2 separate regions of the Homo sapiens genome follow, and region 2 is linked to region 1. Evidence: fine-mapped expression QTL. A gene starts in region 1. The other region holds a variant in brackets. All regions are shown on one strand. Distances are between the middles of the regions.

The links.
Region 2: its variant is fine-mapped to the expression of DDX4 in prefrontal cortex (CommonMind, PIP 0.92).

The regions. Positions count from the first base shown.
Region 1 is chr5:55,734,191-55,743,725 of GRCh38, forward strand. DDX4 (DEAD-box helicase 4) reads left to right here and starts at 3,871. Exons shown (of 22, transcript NM_024415.3): 1 at 3,871-3,911; 2 at 4,760-4,842. The coding sequence starts at 4,774.
Region 2 is chr5:55,614,086-55,623,620 of GRCh38, forward strand. No RefSeq gene overlaps it. Among named protein-coding and RNA genes, the nearest start is that of PLPP1, 84 kb to the left of the region's middle. The variant CT/C (reference allele first, on the strand shown) is at 4,886.

The DNA.
Region 1 (9,535 bases):
GCGTAAGCCCCCATGCCCCGCCTTCAACCTACAGTATTTGAAAGATAAAATATGAAATTTTATCTTTAGTATTTGTGATTTTGTGCATAGTAAGAGATTCTCAAATATTTGTGTACCTAATATTCTTGAATATTTTCTAACTATTCTCAAATATTTATAGTACCTAAGAATGAACATATACTCTACCATTTGAGGTGATTAATTTTGGCCTACTGGTGGATTAAAAGAATTTTTAACAGTGTCGACATGACGCTAGACACAATCCACATCAATAAAAAATCATTATTTGAATAAGACGAAGATAATGCTGAAAATATAAAAAGACTAAAATATCAGTTCTCTCTATTTGTATTAACTTTGAGAATTCAGTGTTTCAAAAGTGTGAAGGGTCTTAACTACAAACTTTGATTTAAAACTGAGACTTCTTTGAGGAAATTGTTTTGCTTTAATCCGTCCTTCTAAAAATGGGATTTAGAGAATTTGGAGGAAACTGTATACAATAAAGTTTTTTTTTTCACCTAAGCTTTCTAGTTAATCATTTGACACAGCAGTCTGAAGATTTTAAATTCCAGTTGCCACTGCCATTCTTTCCACTAGAATGTTGCTTGAGATATGGGCCAATTTTACTTAGCACCTAGCCTGGTACCTGGTGTATAGTAGGTGCTCATTTAAGGCTTATTTTACAACTAAGCGAATTCCTACCTTTTCTCTATGTTACAGAATATCACTAACACCAAGTTAAGATCTATAAGAGGGAATCAGAAAATAGAATATTAGTTTCACTTTCTTGGAACACACATGAAGGAGCAAATCTTTACAAAACTGTCTTTTTTCACTATTCATGGTCAATATTTGAATTATATTATTTTTATGCACTGCTTATTTATCCTTTCCTCAATATTGAACTTCAGTTCTCATCAGAATTCGCTTTTTCTTAACCAAGGATTCCTCTCACACACTATACATGCAGACTTTTTCATTAAGTCATTTTATTGCAATACCTGAAAGCAACAAGAATCTGTACTCTCCAAGTGAGTGAATAGCAGAGAATGTTTGCTAAGTGATTTTAAAAAATGTCTTCATTTTAGAAAATTTGCCCAAGTTTTCCATACTTGAAAAAAAACCTAGTTGTCATTCTCTCTACATGATTTTATATCTTGCTTTTTCTGCTTAGTAAATATTTTCCCATAGAATTAAAAATTTTGCAGGAACAATCTCTAATTTGAATTGAATTAATTTAATTCAATTGAATTGAATTAAAATACCTCAGAGGAATACAAATTCAGAACCTTGAAGATTGGTTGCTGTCCTCCACCATGCCTTGAGGGTATGTGATGTGAAAATTTGGTTTAAAAATGGAAATTATTTAAAATGAATTATATCAAACTGTATTTTGGTTTGGCCTTTGTTAAATATAATCTTTTTTTTTTTTTTTTTGAGCCGAGTCTCGCGATCTCAGCTCACTGCAATCTCTGCCTCCTGGGTTTGAACAAGCTATTCTCCTGCCTCAGCCTCCGAAGTAGTTGGGACTATGGGTGCGTGCCACCACACCCGGCTAATTTTTTGTATTTTCAGTAGAGACGGGGTTTCACCGTGTTAGCCAGAATGGTCTTGATCTCTTGACCTCGTGATCCACCTGCCTCAGCCTCCCAAAGTGCTGGGATTACAGGCGTGAGCCTCTGTGCCCAGCCTAAATATAATCTTTTAAGGTTGGGTGTGGCAGCTTATGGCTGTAATCCCAGCACTTTGGGAGGCTGAGGCAGGAGGCTCACTTGAGGCCAGAAATTGGAGACCAGCCTGGGCAACACAGGGAGACTCTTGGGAGGCTGAGGCAGGAGGCTCACTTGAGGCCCGGAATTGGAGACCAGCCTGGGCAACACAGGGAGACTCTTTCTCTACAAAATTTTTTTTAAAAATTAGCTGGGCATGGTGGCTTGTGCCTGTAGTCCCAGCTATTCGGGAGGCTGAGGTGGCAGGATCACTTGAGCACAGGAGGTTGAGGCTGCAGTAAGCTATGATCATTAGTGCACTCCCCTCTGGGTGACAGAGTGAGACCTTGTCTCAAAAATAAATAAATAAATAAATAAAAAATATATTCATTTTGATCATCTTGAGAATAGTCTGACAAAGTTTATTGCTAACTAGATGAATCCTGAAATTCTTGGTGGTGATGGTTCTAGAGATAAAAAGTATGAAGCAAGCCTGAGCCTATTAAGTGCTTTATCCTTTATGTACCAGTATCAAACTGTGTTGCTATTTATGTTCCTGAATGAGATAGGAATTTCTTCAGATTCAGAGAAGGGAAAATGACAGAAACGACAACAAAAATGAGAACTACACTTTTTTTTTTTTTTTTTTTTTTTGAGGCGGAGTCTCGGTCTGAGGCCCAGGCTGGAGTGCAGTCGCGCGATCTCGGCTCACTGCAAGCTCCGTCTCCCGGGTTCACGCCATTCTCCTGCCTCAACCTCTGGAGTAGCTGGGACTACAGGCGCCCGCCACCACGCCCGGCTAATTTTTTGTATTTTTAGTAGAGACGGGGTTTCGCCGTGTTAGCCAGGATGGTTGCATCTCCTGACCTCGTGATCCGCCCGCTTCGGCCTCCCCAAGTGCTGGGATTACAGACAGACGTAAGCCACCGCGCCCGGCCTCTGAGAACTACACTTTTAAAACAGCCCATGGTCACGCGTTTTGAAGGGCTGGGGAAATACTGAGGGATTTTACCTGCTTTTGGGGTGGGGGGTGGGGGCAGAACAAGAAAATCTGATTGAAGACAGCATGAAGTATCAAAATAACCCTTGGCCACTTTGGCTAGTGCCCGTAGGAATATAAACAGGTGGGCCACAAATCCAAGCCTTGATGAATGACCTATGCCAGCACCAATTTCCTCCCTCCTTCTGGATCAGAGCCTGTTTCCTTCCAAAGTGGTGGACCCCCGAAATCTTACAGGCTTTTTTTTTTTTTTTTTTTTCCTCTGTCTCACTCTGTCGCCCAGGTAGAGATCAATGGCATGATCTCGGTTCATTGCAACCTCTGCCTCCCGGGTTCAAGCGGTTCTCTTGCCTCAGCCTCCTGAGTAGCTGGGACTACAGGCAGCCGCCACCATACCCGGCTAATTTTTTTAATTTTAGTAGAGACGGGGTTTCACCATGTTGGCTAGGCTGGTCTCGAACTCCTAGCCTCATGTGATCCGCCCGCCTCGGCCTCCCAAAGTGCTGGGATTACAGGCGTGAGTCACCATGCCCAGCCGAGTCTAACTTTCTTTACGATTTCCTGGGGTCCCAGCTGGACGGAGTCTCATCCCTGCCCCCCTTACTGGGAGGAAAAGGGAATGCACCTCCTCCATGAGCCTCAGCTGCACTTTGAGGCACCTGGAATCCCCGGATGTGGAGCGAGTCTCTGAAATGCAGAACCCGAGGGGCCAACCCATGGACTGTGATGGGTAAAAGGGGAGAGAGCACTAAAGAGGCCAAGTAGGGAGGACATTATCCCTTTCCCCTTTTATTATTATTTTTTGTTAGAAAAAGGCAGGTGGACATATTTAGCTTGCGAAGCTTGCACAAGGAAAATCCAGAGCGTCTCCAGAATAAGGATCCCACGAGAGAACGTGGACACAAGTAGGCCCTCAGCCAGCCTTGTACCCACAGGCCCAACAGGCCACTTGGCTATGAGGCCAGAGCGTCGCCATAGGGGCCCGAACGCTAGCGTTTAGGGAATCCGCAGGCTAGAAGTGGAGGCGGGACGCCACTGGTCGTCTGAGCGCTGATTGGCTGGTGGCGCTAGTCACCAGCCAATCGTCAACAGACGCCATTTGTTGTTGGAGCCACGCACCTGACGCAGTGGGCGTCTTGCACGTGCAGCCGTTTAAGTCGCGTGGGCGCCTGCGAGGGCTTGGGAGAGCAAGCCGCGGAGAGGTGAGTGGGCCGCTTTTCTACGGGAACTGGCCTGAACTCGGCCGTACGGGCTCCCCAGTAACCGACCTTTGGCCAAAGTGTGGATGGAGTAGGAGGAGTTTTGAAGCCGTCCTTCGAAGCCTTTCTGCCTCGGGGTCTCAGAGTCCCACGGGTGCCCAAAGTCTGGGCTTGAGGCCTGCAGAGGAGGCGAAGGGGCCTTATTCCTGGCTTCTTCACTGCGTTTTCTCTGAACAGACATGGTCCGAGTACCATTTGTGTACAAATCCTTCTTGATGAAGCTGGTTGTCCTTTGTCGGCAGGATTTGGGCAACCATACCCTTCTTCCCTTCCCCACTAAAATCCAAGGCCTCCCTCTTCACCGAGTCGCCGCCCCCCTACCCAGTCGACTCCCGTACCCCTGTCCCCGCCCCCACGCACGCCACAAACACCCCAAAGCAAACATCCTATCCACCTTGGATGTTAATCATGCGAAGGGAGAAATCTTAAGTAGTTTCTGAAAAAAGTTGCCTCTCCCTTAATATTCAGTAAGTCGTTTGGGGACCCTTTGAGGGAGGAGATAAAGTCTATGAACAGATGTTTGGGAAAAGCCTAAGTCTTGCTGGGGACATGGCGATTGCTAGAATGACTAGGTAAGAGGTTCAACTAGTTTCTAAAGCTAAGAAAGGATGGAGATAAATGCCACCTTTAGATAAGAAGAGACCTAATTCCTTCTTTGGAAAAAACTTTTGGGGTATCAGCACCTAGTTGGGTAGTTTCAAGATGTATGTGAAACAATGAGTTTATGCTTTTAAAGTTATGATTCTGATCTAATTGAGTCCAAATGTGCATTTTTTTTTTTTTATGAATAGAACTTGAAGCCACCATGGGAGATGAAGATTGGGAAGCAGAAATCAACCCTCATATGTCTTCCTATGTTCCCATATTTGAGAAGGTAATAACATTTAAAGTTTAGTTATTAAATGCTACGGATTTTATCAAAGTTGAAAATCACTGTGGTGAGAGTTCTAAATTATACAGTCTGTGTCAGTGTTTATCTCCATGTGATTGTTATTAACTATTATATGGGGAATAAGAGACAACCTAAGCCTCGTATAGGATACAATAGCTTGAGGCAATTTGATAATTAAAAGCTAAAATAGATGTAAAAATATTAATGACCTAATTTAAATCTCAATGATTTAGGACTTCCTCAGGTGAAAGCAAACTTGGGCAAATGTGGTTGATATCAGTGAAAGACGCTTGTATGGAAAATTGAAAACAATAATTACGTTTTGGGAGATATTTTAAATTCTGAAAATTGATTTTGTGCAAGGAGGGTTCTCAGGATAAATGATACTAGGCTGATTGAGTTGGTAACATCAGTTTGTATGAATCTTCAGATCTTTTTTCTTAATGGCATTTGGGGAGTTACATTGTAATTTAGGGGACAGTGGGGTAAGTTTTTTGGGCTTCAGTTCTGACTTGGAAATTGGCTTTAAAAAGATGAATAGAAGGTACTTTAAAAGATAATAGATTATTTTTGCATGTGTTACTTACTATATGGTGTCTCTACAAGTTGATTTTTTTGTTCCCCTTCAGAATTTCCAGTTTGAGTGTATGTCAGTTCTGACACTTTCTGATTTCAAGTTTTGCCTTAGTGGAAGTTCTTATTTTAGACAAAAATATAAAATATGCAATCTTTTGTCTTAGTTGAATTTGATCTATATGTGAAGTTTATATTAAAATACCCAAAATACTAATATAAATTTATCATGTTTCTTTTCTTGGAACTTTTTAAAAGAAATAACATGTTACCTTTTTTTTTATTTTTTAAAATTTTTGTAGAGATGAAGTCTCACTATATTGCCCAGACTGGTTTCCAACTCCTGAGTTCAGGCGACATTCTCAAAGTGTTGGGATTACAGGCGCAAGCCATTGCACCTGGACTGTGTTATCTTTTTATAGTTCTCTTCTCATAATAAAAATATAGCTTTTTTGGGAAAAGTGGAGAAAGTCACCTACAAATCTTGCCCAATAGACAAGCACTCCTGTTAAAATTTTTAGTCAATTTTCTTCTGTTTTTTCCAAACATTTTTTGTTTGTTTTTGATACAGTGTCTTGCTCTGTCACCCAGGCTGGAGTGCACTCATGCAGTGTGGGCTCACTGCAGCCTCTGCCTTCTGGGTTCAAGCAATTCTCCTGCCTCAACCTCCCTCAGCGAGACTACAGGCGCATGCCACCACGCCCAGCTAATTTTTGTATTTTTAGTAGAGATGGGGTTTCCCCATGTTGGCCAGGCTGGTCTTGAACTCCTGATCTCAGGTGATTCACTCACCTGGGCCTTCCAAAATGCTGGATTACAGTCATGAGCCACCGTGCCCAGCCCAAACATGTTTTATATAGTTTTGATGATAGTATATAACAGTAATTTTTTTTTTTTTTTGAGATGGAGTCTCACTCTATTGCCCAGGCTGGAGTGCAGTGGTGCAGTCTCAGCTCACTGCAACCTCTGCCTCCTAGGTTCAAGCGATTTTCCTGCCTCAGCCTCCCAAGTAGCTGGGACTACACGTGTGTGCCACCACGCCCCGCTAATTTTTTTTTTTTTTTTTTTGTATTTTTAGTAGACACAGGGTTTCACTATGTTGGCCAGGCTGGTCTCAAACTCCTGACCTCAGGTGATCCTCCCACTTTGGCCTCCCAAAGTGCTGGGATTACAGGCATGGGCCACCACACCCAGCCATATAACAGTAACTTTTGAATCCATCTTTCTTGACACTTCAGCACTAACTATTCCATATTACAACTTTTGTGGGAATTTCAGTGGTGTTAGCTTCTCACTGTGTATTGTCATTAATGTTTACATCTTACTTGTTTTAATTTGGTAATTTTTTTCAAAAATGGAATTACTTGTTCAGAGGACATTTTTTATCATTCTTTTTCCTCCTTGTTCTCAATAGATTTGTTATAACACAAAGTTTAATTCACAGATAGATACTTTATTCCCCCTGGTCTTAATAGCCATCTGTCCAATTTCTTTTTTCTTAGTTTGAGATTTTTGTCTTCATGAAGTGTTTAAGCAGCACACTGCACTATAGCGTGTTGTGCATATTTATTGCATTGGGTTTCTGAAATTAAGGATGACTGTCAAATCTTTCAAATTTCCCTTTTTGGGATCTTTATGCTATTCAATAACATAGTTTCTTCACATTGGGAATACTAAATTGAATATGTTGACCAGTCTACCTTATGATGCTTAATACATTTGTGTTGGGTGAATTTGTAGTGTATCTTTTGCATTTGTCTGCAAACTTAACACCTGGTGTTGTGCTGGTTGTGCCATTAGTTCTATGCTTAGTTGACTCGAAGGAACATGGTGCAATCAGGATCTTTATTTGCCTTCCTAGGTTGAATAAAAAGTGCAGGATGGCCAGGTGCGGTGGTTCATGCCTGTAATCCCAGCACTTTGGGAGGCTGAGACAGCCAGATCACTTGAGGCCAGGAGTTCGAGACCAGCCTGGCCAACATAGCAAAACCCCTTCTCTACTAAAAATACAAAAAATTAGCTGGGAGTGGTGGCACACGCCAGTAGCCTCAGCTACTTGGGAGGCTGAGGCAGGAGAATCTCTTGAAATTGGGAGGTGGAGACTGCAGTGAGCCAAGTCCGGGCAGCTGCACTCCAGCCTGGGCAATGGAGCAAGACTCTGTCTGAAAAAAAAAAAAAGTGCAGAAACTAGAGATGAATACATTACATTTTTATGTAGAACAAATCTAAAGTCTTTCATTCCGTTTCTTTTAAAGACACCATTTTGATTTGTTCTAACTGAATTTGGTTTTCAAGAAAAAGCTGGCCTTCTCTTTTATAGCGGCTTTATCTGTGATCATCCTTTTCTGAGTGCTTCTCAGGAGCTTTATTTGGAGACTTAATGTTGACATACGCTTATATAATTTTGAAATAATTTGTCATTGTTCTAGTATAACAGATAGAATTTTGGGTAGAACTTCTCAATTCTAAATTTTAAAGTGAGTGTACCACCTGGGAATAGAACAGCGAAAGATGTGAAGTTAAGAAAGATTTTATAATGTGGCAATTATATAGTCCAGAAATCTCAACCATTAGGCATTTGCACGTTGCCTGCAGGCTTATTGGGGTGAGTGTTAGAATGGATGGGTATGGTGAGTGTATTAGATAATTCCGTTGCTTACTTACTAGCTGTGAGGCCTCTTGTTAACTGACCGTGAATGTAAGCCTGTATAGTGATCACTTCTGTCTGATCTATTTGCCATTTTTGTGGCACATTTCAGAAGGCAAAATCTCTTGTGGTTAAAGTGGAAACAGTAATTGAGTAATTAGACCATCCACAATTATAATTTTATTAAGCAGCAGTAGCAATGTTAGCAATAATTGTTGAGATAAGAAAATAAACATATATATGATATTACAAAATTGAAAGTAAGAATACAGGTGAAAAAAATGTGTTCATCAAAATGCAAAAGGATTATTTGTAGCTGCATGTGAGAACACTTATGTGTTAAACATTCGAAATTTCTGAATTGGTGCATTTGGGTGGTTTGAGAGATAATAATGGTTTACAGCTAAGTATTTTAAGAGGTAAGCTAAAGACAAGACCTATGATTCATTCAACATATTTTTGAGTTCTAGTAGGTGCTGGAGAGAGAGTGGTGAATATAAGGTGCTTGCTGTTACATTGTATTTTACTGGAGAAGACAGAATAAGCGCGTTTGAGAACCAAATAATTATAGTGAAAAGTACTATAAAAAATTAGAGAAATGTGTGTGTGAGACTGGTGTGGGGTGGATTTAGTTGGAGAGGGAAGGCTTCTCTCAGACAGTGACTCATGAGCCTGAGACTTAAAGGAGTCCCAGCAGGACATCAGGTGCAAAGGTTCTCAAGGAACCTTTGAGAAGGAGGAGGGAACAAACTTGGGGTATTAGGGCAACAAGAAGGCCAATGTGTTAGTTTTCTGTGGCTGCTATAACAAATTAACACAAACTGGGTAACTTAAAGCAACATAAATTTATTCTCATAGTTCTGGAAGCCTGAAGTTAAAAATCAAGGTGTCAGCAGCGCTGCCCTCCCTCTGGAGGTTCTGGGACAGAATCTTTGCTTCTTCTAGCTTCTAGTGGCTAAGGGCATTCCTCGGCTTGTGGCTGCATATCTCTTAGCTCTGTCTTCACATTGCACCTCCTTTGTGGGTCTTTGTGTTATTTCCCTCTGCCTCTCTATTATAAGGACACTTGTGATGGCAATTAGGACTCATGCCGATAATCCAGGGTAATCTCATCTCAAAATCTTTAACTTAATTTCATCTGCTGTGACCCCTTTTCTCTCTCTTTCTTTTCTTTTTTGAGACAGAGACTTGTTCTGTCACCTAGGCTGGAGTGCAGTGGCGCAATCTCGGCTCCCTTCAAGCTCCACCTCCTGGGTTCAGGCGATTCTCCTGCCTCAGTCTCCTGAGTAGCTGGGATTACAGGTGCCCGCCACCATGCCTGGCTAATTTTTGTATTTTTAGTAGAGATGGGGTTACACCATGTTGGACAGGCTGGTCTTGAACTCCTGACCTCAGGTGATCTGGCTGCCTCGGCTTCCCAAAGTTCTGGAATTACAGGCGTGAGCCACCGCGCCC
Region 2 (9,535 bases), 120 kb before region 1:
CTCTGTATCTGGCTAATCTGGTGGGGACTTGGAGAACCTTGATGTTTAGCTCAAGGTTTGTAAATACACCAATTAGCACTCTGTGTCTAGCTCAAGGTTTGTAAACCACCAATCAGCACCCTGTGTCTAGCTCAAGGTTTGTAAATGCACCAATCAGTGCTCTGTGTCTAGCTAATCTAGTGGGGACTTGGAGAACTTTTTTGTCTAACTCAGGGATTGTAAATGCACCAATCAACACCCTGTCAAAATGGACCAATGAGCTCTCTGTAAAACGGACCAATCAGCTCTCTGTAAAATGGGCCAATCAGCAGGATGTTGGTGGGGTCAGATAAGGGAATAAAAGCAGGCTGCCGGAGCCAGCATTGACAACCCACTCGGGTCCCCTTCCACACTGCGGAAGCTTTGTTCTTTCACTATTTGCAATAAATCTTGCTGCTGCTCACTCTTTGGGTCCGCACTGCCTTTATGAGCTGTAATACTCACCGCGAAGGTCTGCAGCTTCACTCCTGAGGCCAGCGAGACCATGAACCTACTGGGATGAATGAACAACTCCAGATGCGCTGCCTTAAAAGCTGTAACACTCACTGCGAAGGTCTGCAGCTTCACTCCTGAAGCCAGCGAGACCACCAGCCCACCAGAAGGAAGAAACTCTGAACATGTCCGAACATCAGAAGGAACAAACTCCGGAAACACCACCTTTAAGAACTGTAACACTCACCGTGAGGGTCCGTGGCTTCATTCTTGAAGTCAGTGAGACCAAGAACCCACCAATTCTGGACACAACTGGACCCCTTTCGCTTGCTATTCTGTCCTATTTTTCCTTAGAATCTGGGGGCTAAACACCGGGCACCTGTCGGCCAGTTAAAAGCAACTAGCGCGGCCACCAGACTAAAGACACAGGTGTCAGGCTTTCTGGGAAAGGGCTCTGAGTCCTTACTCAGACTTGTGGGACAACCCCGCAACCAGTGGCATACCTAAGTAAGGAAATTGATACAGTAGCAAAAGGCTGGCCTCACCGTTTACAGGTAGTTGCAGCGGTGGCCATCTTAGTATCAAAGGCTATCAAACTAATGCAAGGAAAGGATCTCACCGTCTGGACTACTAATGATGTAAATGGCATAGGTGCCAAAGGAAGTTTATGGCTATCAGGCAACCGCCTGCTTAGATACCAGGCGCTATTCCTTGAGGGACCGGTGCTTCAAATACACATGTGTGCGGCCCTCAACCCTGCCACTTTTCTCCGAGAGGATGGAGAACCAATCAAGCATGACTGCCAACAAATTATAGTCCAGACTTATGCCACCGGAGAGGATCTCTTAGAAGTCCCCTTAGCTAATCCTAATCTTATATACCGATGGAAGTTGATTTGTGGATAATCGGATACGGAAGGCAGGTTATGCCATAGTTAGTGATGTTATGCCATAGTTAGTAATGTAACAGTACTCAAAAGTAAGCCTCTTCCCCGAGGAACCAGTGCCTAGTTAGCAGAACTAGTGGCACTTACCTGAGCCTTAGAACTGGGAAAGGGAAAAAGGATAAATGTGTATACAGATAGCAAGTATGCTTATCTAATCCTACGTGCCCATGCTGCAATATGGAAAAGGAATTCCTAACATCTGGGGGAACCTCCGTTAAATACCACAAGGAAATCATGAAGCTGTTGCATGCAGTGCAAAAACCCAAGGAGCTGGCAGTCTTACACTGCCAAAGCCATCAAAAAGGTGAAGAAGAAAAGGCAGAAGGAAACCATCGGGCAGATGCTGAGGCCAAAATTGCTGCCAGGCAGAACCTCCCATCGGAAATACCTACGGAAGGACCCTTGGTATAGAACAACCCTCTCCAACAGATTAAGCCCCAGTATTCCCGACTGAAACAGAATGGGGACTTTCACGGGGGCATAGTTGTCTCCCCTCGGGGTGCTTAACGACAGAGAGACAAAGAGGGAGTCAGAGAGAGAGAGAGAGAGAGAGGGCAAAAACAGAAAGTCAAAGAGAATGGGGGGGAGGACAGAAAGTCAAAGAGAGAAGGAAAGAGAGGAAGAGACAGAGACAAAGAGGAAGTCAGAGAGAAAGAGAGAGACAGACAAGGAGTCAGAGAGAGAGAAAGAGAGATAGAAGTAGTAAAGAAAAAACAGTGTACCCTATTCCTTTAAAAGCCAGGGTAAATTTAAAACCTATAATTGATAATTGAATGTCTTCTCCATGACACTCCATAACACTCCATTACCACCTTGTTGTCAGTGTAAACAAGGGCGTAGCCCAAAAACACTGAGGCACTGACAGCCCATAGCCTTCCTATCAAAAATCCTTAACCCAGCAGGTTTCCTAACAGGGGATCTAAATCTTAGTTAATTACTATACAAAGGTCCGACCAGACTTAGGAAGAACTCCCTTCAGGACAGGAAGATAGATGGTTCCTCTCAGGCAATTAAGGGAAAAAGACACAATGGGTATTCAGTAAGTGATAAGGAAACTCTTGTAAAAGCAGAGTTAGGAAAATTGCCTAATAATTGATCTGCTCAAACACGCAAGCTGTTTGCCCTCAGCTAAACCTTAAAGTACTTACAGAATCAGGAAGGAGCCATCTATACCAATTTTAAGTTAATATGGACTGAATGAGGTCTTATTAATAGCAAAGAATAATTGATATCCCAAACTTACAAGGTTTTCAACAGAAGTAAAGTTTGCTAAAAGTTAACAGTATAAAATGTGTTATCCTAACTTCAAAGCTTGTGGAAATCAGACCCTATCAGTACCCCTCAAAGCTCAAGTCAGTTAGCACAGAGCCATACAACTAATACCCCTACTTAAAGGGTTAGGAATGGCCACTGCTACAGGAACCAGAATAGCCAGTTTATCTACTTCACTATCCTACTACCACACACTCTCAAAAGATTTCTGACAGTTTACAAGAAATAACAAAATCTATCCTTACTCTACAATCCCAAATAGACTCTTTGGCAGCAGTAACTCTCCAAAACCGCCAAGGCCTAGACCTCCTCACTGCTGAGAAAGGAGGACTGTGCACCTTCTTAGGGGAAGAGTGTTGCTTTTACACTAACCAGTCAGGGATAGTATGAGACACTGCCTGGCATTTACAGGAAAAGGCTTCTGAATCAGACAACACCTTTCAAACTCTTATACCAACCTCTGGAGTTGGGCAACATGGCTTCTCCCCTTTCTAGGTCCCGTGACAGCCATCTTGCTATTACTCACCTTCGGGCCCTGTATTTTTAACCTGCTTGTCAAATTTGTTTCCTCCAGGATGGAGGCCATCAAGCTACAGATGGTCTTACAAATGGAACCCCAAATGAGCTCAACTCAAAACTTCTACTGAGGACCCCTGGATCTTTGACTGGCCTAGAGAGTTCCCCTCTGGAGGACACTACCACTGCAGGGCCCCTTCTTCGCCCCTATCCAGCAGAAGTAGCTAGAGTGGTCATTGCCCAATTCCCAACAGTAGTTGGGGTGTCATGTTTAGAGGGGGGATTGAGAGGTGAAGCCAGCTGGACTTCTGGGTCAGGAGGGGGACTTGAAGAACTTTTCTGTAGCTAGCTAGAGGTTTGTAAAATGGACCAATCAGCACCCTGTAAAATGGACCAATCAGTGCTCTGTAAAATGGACCAATCAGCAGGACATGGATGGGGACAAATAAGGGAATAAAAGCTGGCCGCCCCAGTCAGCAGCGGCAACCTGCTTGGGTCCCCTTTCACGCTGTGGAAGCTTTGTTCTTTGGCTCTTCACAATAAATCTGCTCACTCTGGATCTGTGCAACCTTTAAGAGCTGTAATGCTCACCGCAAAGGTCCGCACCTTCATTCTTGAAGTCAGCGAGACCAAGAACCCACTGGAAGGAACCAACTCTGGATGCAGGACTGCAGACACATGCCACCATGCCTGGCAAATTTTTTAATTTTTAGGAGAGATGAGGTCTTGATATGTTGCCCAAGCTGGTCTTGAACTCCTGGGCTCAAGTGATCCTCCTGCCTTGGCCTCTCAAAGTGTTAGGATTACAGATGTGAGCCACCATGTTCAGCCCTGTGCCTATTTTTCTACTGGGGCACTGAAGGATTTTACAGAGAAAGGCATAGTCAGTTTCATATTAATTAAAGATAACTCTGGCAGCACTAGAAATGATGGCTCTATCTTTGCATTTCCAACTCTAGGACAATGAGTAAAAGTTTACTGCATTGGATTGGGCTTTAATCTATCTGCAATAAAGGTTTTATATATAATACAGCACCGAGGAGTGATAAAATTATTTATGTGAATTAAGTCTTAGTTTCCTCTCCTCAAGGAGTGTCATAAATTTCTAATTTAGTTTCTAAAAAAAACTTAACATTAATCCTTTAAAGCTGGGCACTTTCGTGCAGTAGAATTAGATCCTTTCTGGAACAAGGTGGAGTATAAAGAAATGTTGCCTTACTCTAATGTTGCTCTTGGTTGTTTGTTTTATGCGTCAAGAGCCCTTAAAAGGTTCCTCATCGCTAAGATAGACTAATACTAGAAACTCTTTGAAAATTAAACCGTTCTTTGAATTCTTCAATATTGCTGAAAGTATCTCTTAAAAGACCCATACCCAGGTAAAAACTTTCCAATCTAAAAAAGAAAAATGTCCTACTTTGATCTCAACCATTACTGAATTTGTATCCCATGCTATTTTGCTAAATCCAATTTAACTGTTCCAGAAATAATGCTTAGGTTTGGTAAAAGTTGCAGTTCTTAAAGGTAGTGGAGAAACTCAGAGCTTGACATAATCAAACAAGGTGACTGAAACATTTCTTCTTATTCCTCCTTCTAACATTCCTTCCAGTTGCCCCTGCGCAGAGTGGTTTGTGGATGGTTTGCCTTAAAGCTGCTGTCAAGGCTCCTCACTTGCATGGGCTC[CT/C]TTTTTTTTTTTTTTTTTTAAACGGAGTCTCACTCTTGTTGCCCAGGCTGGAGTGTAGTGGTGCGATCTCAGCTCACTGCAACGTCTGCCTCCTGGGTTCAAGCGATTCTCCTGCCTCAACTTCCTGAATAGCAGGGATTACAGGCACCCGCCATCATCCATGCCTGGCTAATTTTTGTATTTTTAATAGAGTCTGGGTTTTGCCATGTTGGCCAGGCTGGTCTTGAACTCCTGACCTCAGCTGATCCGCCCGCCTTGGCCTCCCAAAGTGCTGGGATTACAGGTGTGAGCCACTGCACCCGGTCGGCCTCCTTTCTAATTTGGGACTCCTAATGTTGTGTATCTCCTTAAAGAGATAACTCCAAACTGTATAAGCCTCAGGCCCCACAAAACCTGAATCTACCCCTTTCACCAAGGATCTTTCTCACCTATCCTAAAGGTTCTCCGTCGGTAGGTTCTTGATTTAATGGGTTGACTGTAGCTATATTTCTACAAGTCTTCTTTTCCATGATTTATCTTAGACAGACATCTTTTTAGAAAAATCTGTTAAATAATAAAGTAATAACATAAATGAGTCACTTAGAATCCCCCATAAAACGTCATTCATGTTCATTCTGTGACCACATAACCTTATGTGATTATCATTAACCTAGGTTTTTTGTTGTCGTTTTTTTTTTTTGCTCTGTCACCCAAGCTGGAGTGCAGTAGTACAATCACAGCTCATTGCAGCCTTGAACTCCTGGCCTCAAGCGATCCTCTCGCTTTGGCCTCCTAAGTAGCTAGGACTACAGGCAAGTGTGTCACCATGCCTGGTTAACTTTCTGTTATTATTTTCAGAGACAGCGTCTCATTATGTTGCACAAGCTGGTCTCAAACTCCTGGCCTCAAGTGATCCTCCCACCTCAGCCTCCTGAGTACCTGGGATTACAAGTGCAAGCTACGGCACCCAGCTCTAACTTTTTAAAAGCAGTTTTATTTTGATAAAAATGATTCACTTTACAGAGACCTACTTACTGCAACATTGTCCTATATTCTTCTCTTCAAAACATGTGTATGATGTGGCCACAGCACAGCATTCAGTTGAGACAGGCAGCAGGAAGGGGCAATAGCCTGGCATTTCGGTGACACCTGGAAGGATGACCTGGTTGTTGATGCCTAGAGGTTGGTGAGGGATATTAAAGTGTCAGAGCCACATCTGGCTTGTTCACCACTGTATGCTCAGTGCTTAGCATAAGGTCTGGCAACCAGTCAGTACTTAGTTATTGACTGAATGACTAATATTGAACCTGCTGACCCCAATTTTATTTTGTAATGGTTTTGGGGCTATGGAACAACATCCTAGATAATAGCAATTACCTTATTATTTTCCATAAAGAATCCTGACTAGTTAATTAATTGATTAAACAAGTGTATATTGAGTGCCTACTATGACCAAACAATAGGATCACTTGGGATTGAGAGAGAGCCAAAGGAGGAAAAATCTGGAGTGTGAGCAATTTCCCATCCCCATCGCAGGCCTGTACTTTATGGCCTGAGATAAGTAAGAATGGCCAGGCGCAGTGGCTCAGGCCTGTAATCCCAGCACTCCGCAAAGCTGAGCTGGGGTGGGTCACTTGAGGTCAGGAGTTTGAGAGAGACCAGCCTGGCCAACATGGCAAAACCCCGTCTCTACTGAAAACACAAAAATTAGCTGGTTGTGGTGGCTGGCTCCTGTTATTCCATCTACTTGGGAGGCTGAAGCAGGAGAATTGCTTAAACTCGGGAGGTGGAAGTTGCAGTGAGCCAAGATTGCACCACTGTACTCCAGCCTGGGTAACAGAGCGAGACTCCATCTCAAAAGAGAATAGAGAAGTTGAAAAAGACATAGCCTTATTTTATTTTTGCCGAAGAGATGGAACATAAAAATAATACTGGGGAAGAAGTAATAGTACTTAGAGAAGGGGGAAAATTAGAGCCCTCTATTGGCTTAAGTGGCTCTGGAGGATTAGGACATCAAGCTCTTCCAGGAACTAGGCTCTACTTAACATTCATCGGAAATATTCTTAGAGGGAGAGGTCACAACAGTATATTGTCCTAAAGATATAGTCATTTTAGGTTTCAGTTAACATAATGTAATGCCTTTCTTTAGGATCAGAACACTTTGCGGGGCTCCTTGGGGCCTGATGTGAGGCACAGGGGCAAAGTCACTTGAGAAGTTTGACCCGGCGAAAGATGGAACCCAGCTTCTTCCTGACCTTGGGGCCAGTGCTACCAAGCAATAATATTTCCCAGCAAAATTCAATTAAACAAAATCCCAGAGTTGTTTTCCTTCAAATTATCTTTGATTTAATTTCTTCTTTTATATAAAAGACAACAAATTACATTTCAGAGAACAATGTTTAGGTTATAAGGTTCCCGTCAGAGCTGTTTCACAACACGTGTTTACATAATCTGAAGTGAAGGCAGCAGTGGACTGTAAAACCGGCCAGCCAGGCCAGTTTGTGTGCATCTAGGGGATTAATTTCACTTTGGGTCACAAACTAATGTAACATTCTACTGTTTAGGTGTCAACTAGATTTGGATTTGGTTTTGGATATTCTAATGGGGATGAAATTGAGTTTAGAAAAAACAAAAACCACCACCACCAGATTCTAAAAAGCAATTAGGTCAGTGCTTTGTAAAGAAAACATACAACATCAATATTTTCTGCTCTTATCAATGAGTTCAAACATTTGACACTTTGAATACTGATATTTAAATAAGTCAAATCTTTGGTGAGAAAAACTTATGCATTTTTCTGTTTGTACCACCCAATGTGTTACTAATTATTTGCCCTATTAATCCATTGTGCTTTGCTGTCCAAGATTAACAGAATAATGCAATGTGTTCAAAATGCAAAGAGAATAAATAGCATACAGAAGCATTAAACAAGTCGCAGAAAACTTATCTTAGAGGAAATTTACCAAACTAAAAGCGAATACATTTAACCTATATGATTGCATTTGCTGGTGAAGGTACCAAATATTAAATTTTGGACAGTTATGAGGAGGAACCTGAAAATGGGTCGTTGCTGCTTGACCTCTCGGCTTCTTTTATCAACCCTCCTCAAGGCTCCCAACTGAAAGGGATCTGTTTCTCTAATAGTCCTCAGTATAAATTGCTTTGCATCATAGTTAATTATATACACAGTTCCTTTACTAGATTAAAAGTTCATTTCAGATATGAATGATGTCTTATACATCTTTATCTCCTCCAAAGCACTGGACAGAAAAGTCTTTTACTTCTATAGTTAGTAGCTGCATTGCATTTGCAAAATATACTTAATATAAATAAAGTATTTCCCTTTAATATAGTCCCCTTTTATGAATAAATTTATTCCTTACATCAAAGCATTTTTTGGGTGTGATAATAAAATTGATTTTGGATGATCACCCACAGGTGTCAAACTTAATTTTCTTTGTCCTTTCTGGCTATTAGCATACCACATATTCATATATAGACTTTCTAAGGAAGACCCCTCTAAATAATCCATATTTTACTTAATAATATCCTCAGTTGTATGTTAAGCTAAATTCAAGAGTTAAGCATGAGAGCAAAAAGTGAAAGAAATTCAATTAGAAAATTCAAAGAGATGACAGCAGACAAAGAAGGTCTAAAATTAGTTGAGATATGAATGACTTCATATCTCATCATTCTAATGTGTGGGCCAGGATATACACACTTACAAAGAGTTCTCTGACCAAGCCAAATAATAGGCCAAAGAGTTGATCTCATGAAAAAAAAACTTAAGAAGGCAAAGTCATACAGCGTAAGTCTAATACAAGATTTTAGAAGTTCTAAATTATCGAGTCTTTTTTTCTTTTTTTTGAGATGGAGTTTCACTCTTGTTGCCCAGGCTGGAGTGCAATGGCACGATCTCAGCTCACTGCAACCTCTGCCTCCCGGGTTCAAGCGATTCTCCTGCCTCAGCCTACTGAGTACCTGGGATTATAGGCACACGCCACCACGCCCGGCTAATTTTGTATTTTTAGTGGAGATGGGGGTTTCTCCATGTTGGTCAGGCTAGTCTCAAACTCCCGACCTCAGGTGATCTGCCTGCCTCGGCCTCCCAAAGTGCTGGGATTACAGGTGTGAGCCACCACACCCAGCCAATTATTTTTTTCTTTAATTAAAAAAATTGTTTTTTTGAGACAGGGTCTTACTCTGTTGCTCAGGCCGGAGTACAGTGGCACAATCAGGGCTCATTGATGTCCTGGGCTCAAGCAATCCTCTCACCTCAGCTTCCTGGGTACCTGGGACTACAGCTGCATGACACTGTGCCCAGCTAATTTTTTTTAAATTTATTTTTTTGTAGAGACAGGGTCTCACTATGTTGTCCTGGCTGGTCTTGAACTCCTGGGCTCAAGTGATCCTCCCACCTCAGTCTTCCAAGAGCTGGGATCACAGCTGTGCCCACATCAAGTCTTTTCGTTTTGTTTTGTTTTTTGAGATGGAATTTCGCTTTTGTCACCCAGGCTGGAGTGCAGTGGCGTGATCTTGGCTCACTGCAACCTCCGCCTCCTGGGTTCAAGCAATTCTCCTGCCTCAGCCTCCTGAGTAGCTGGGATTACAGGTGCACGCCACCACGCCCAACTAATTCTTGTATTTTTAGTAAAGACGGGGTTTCACTG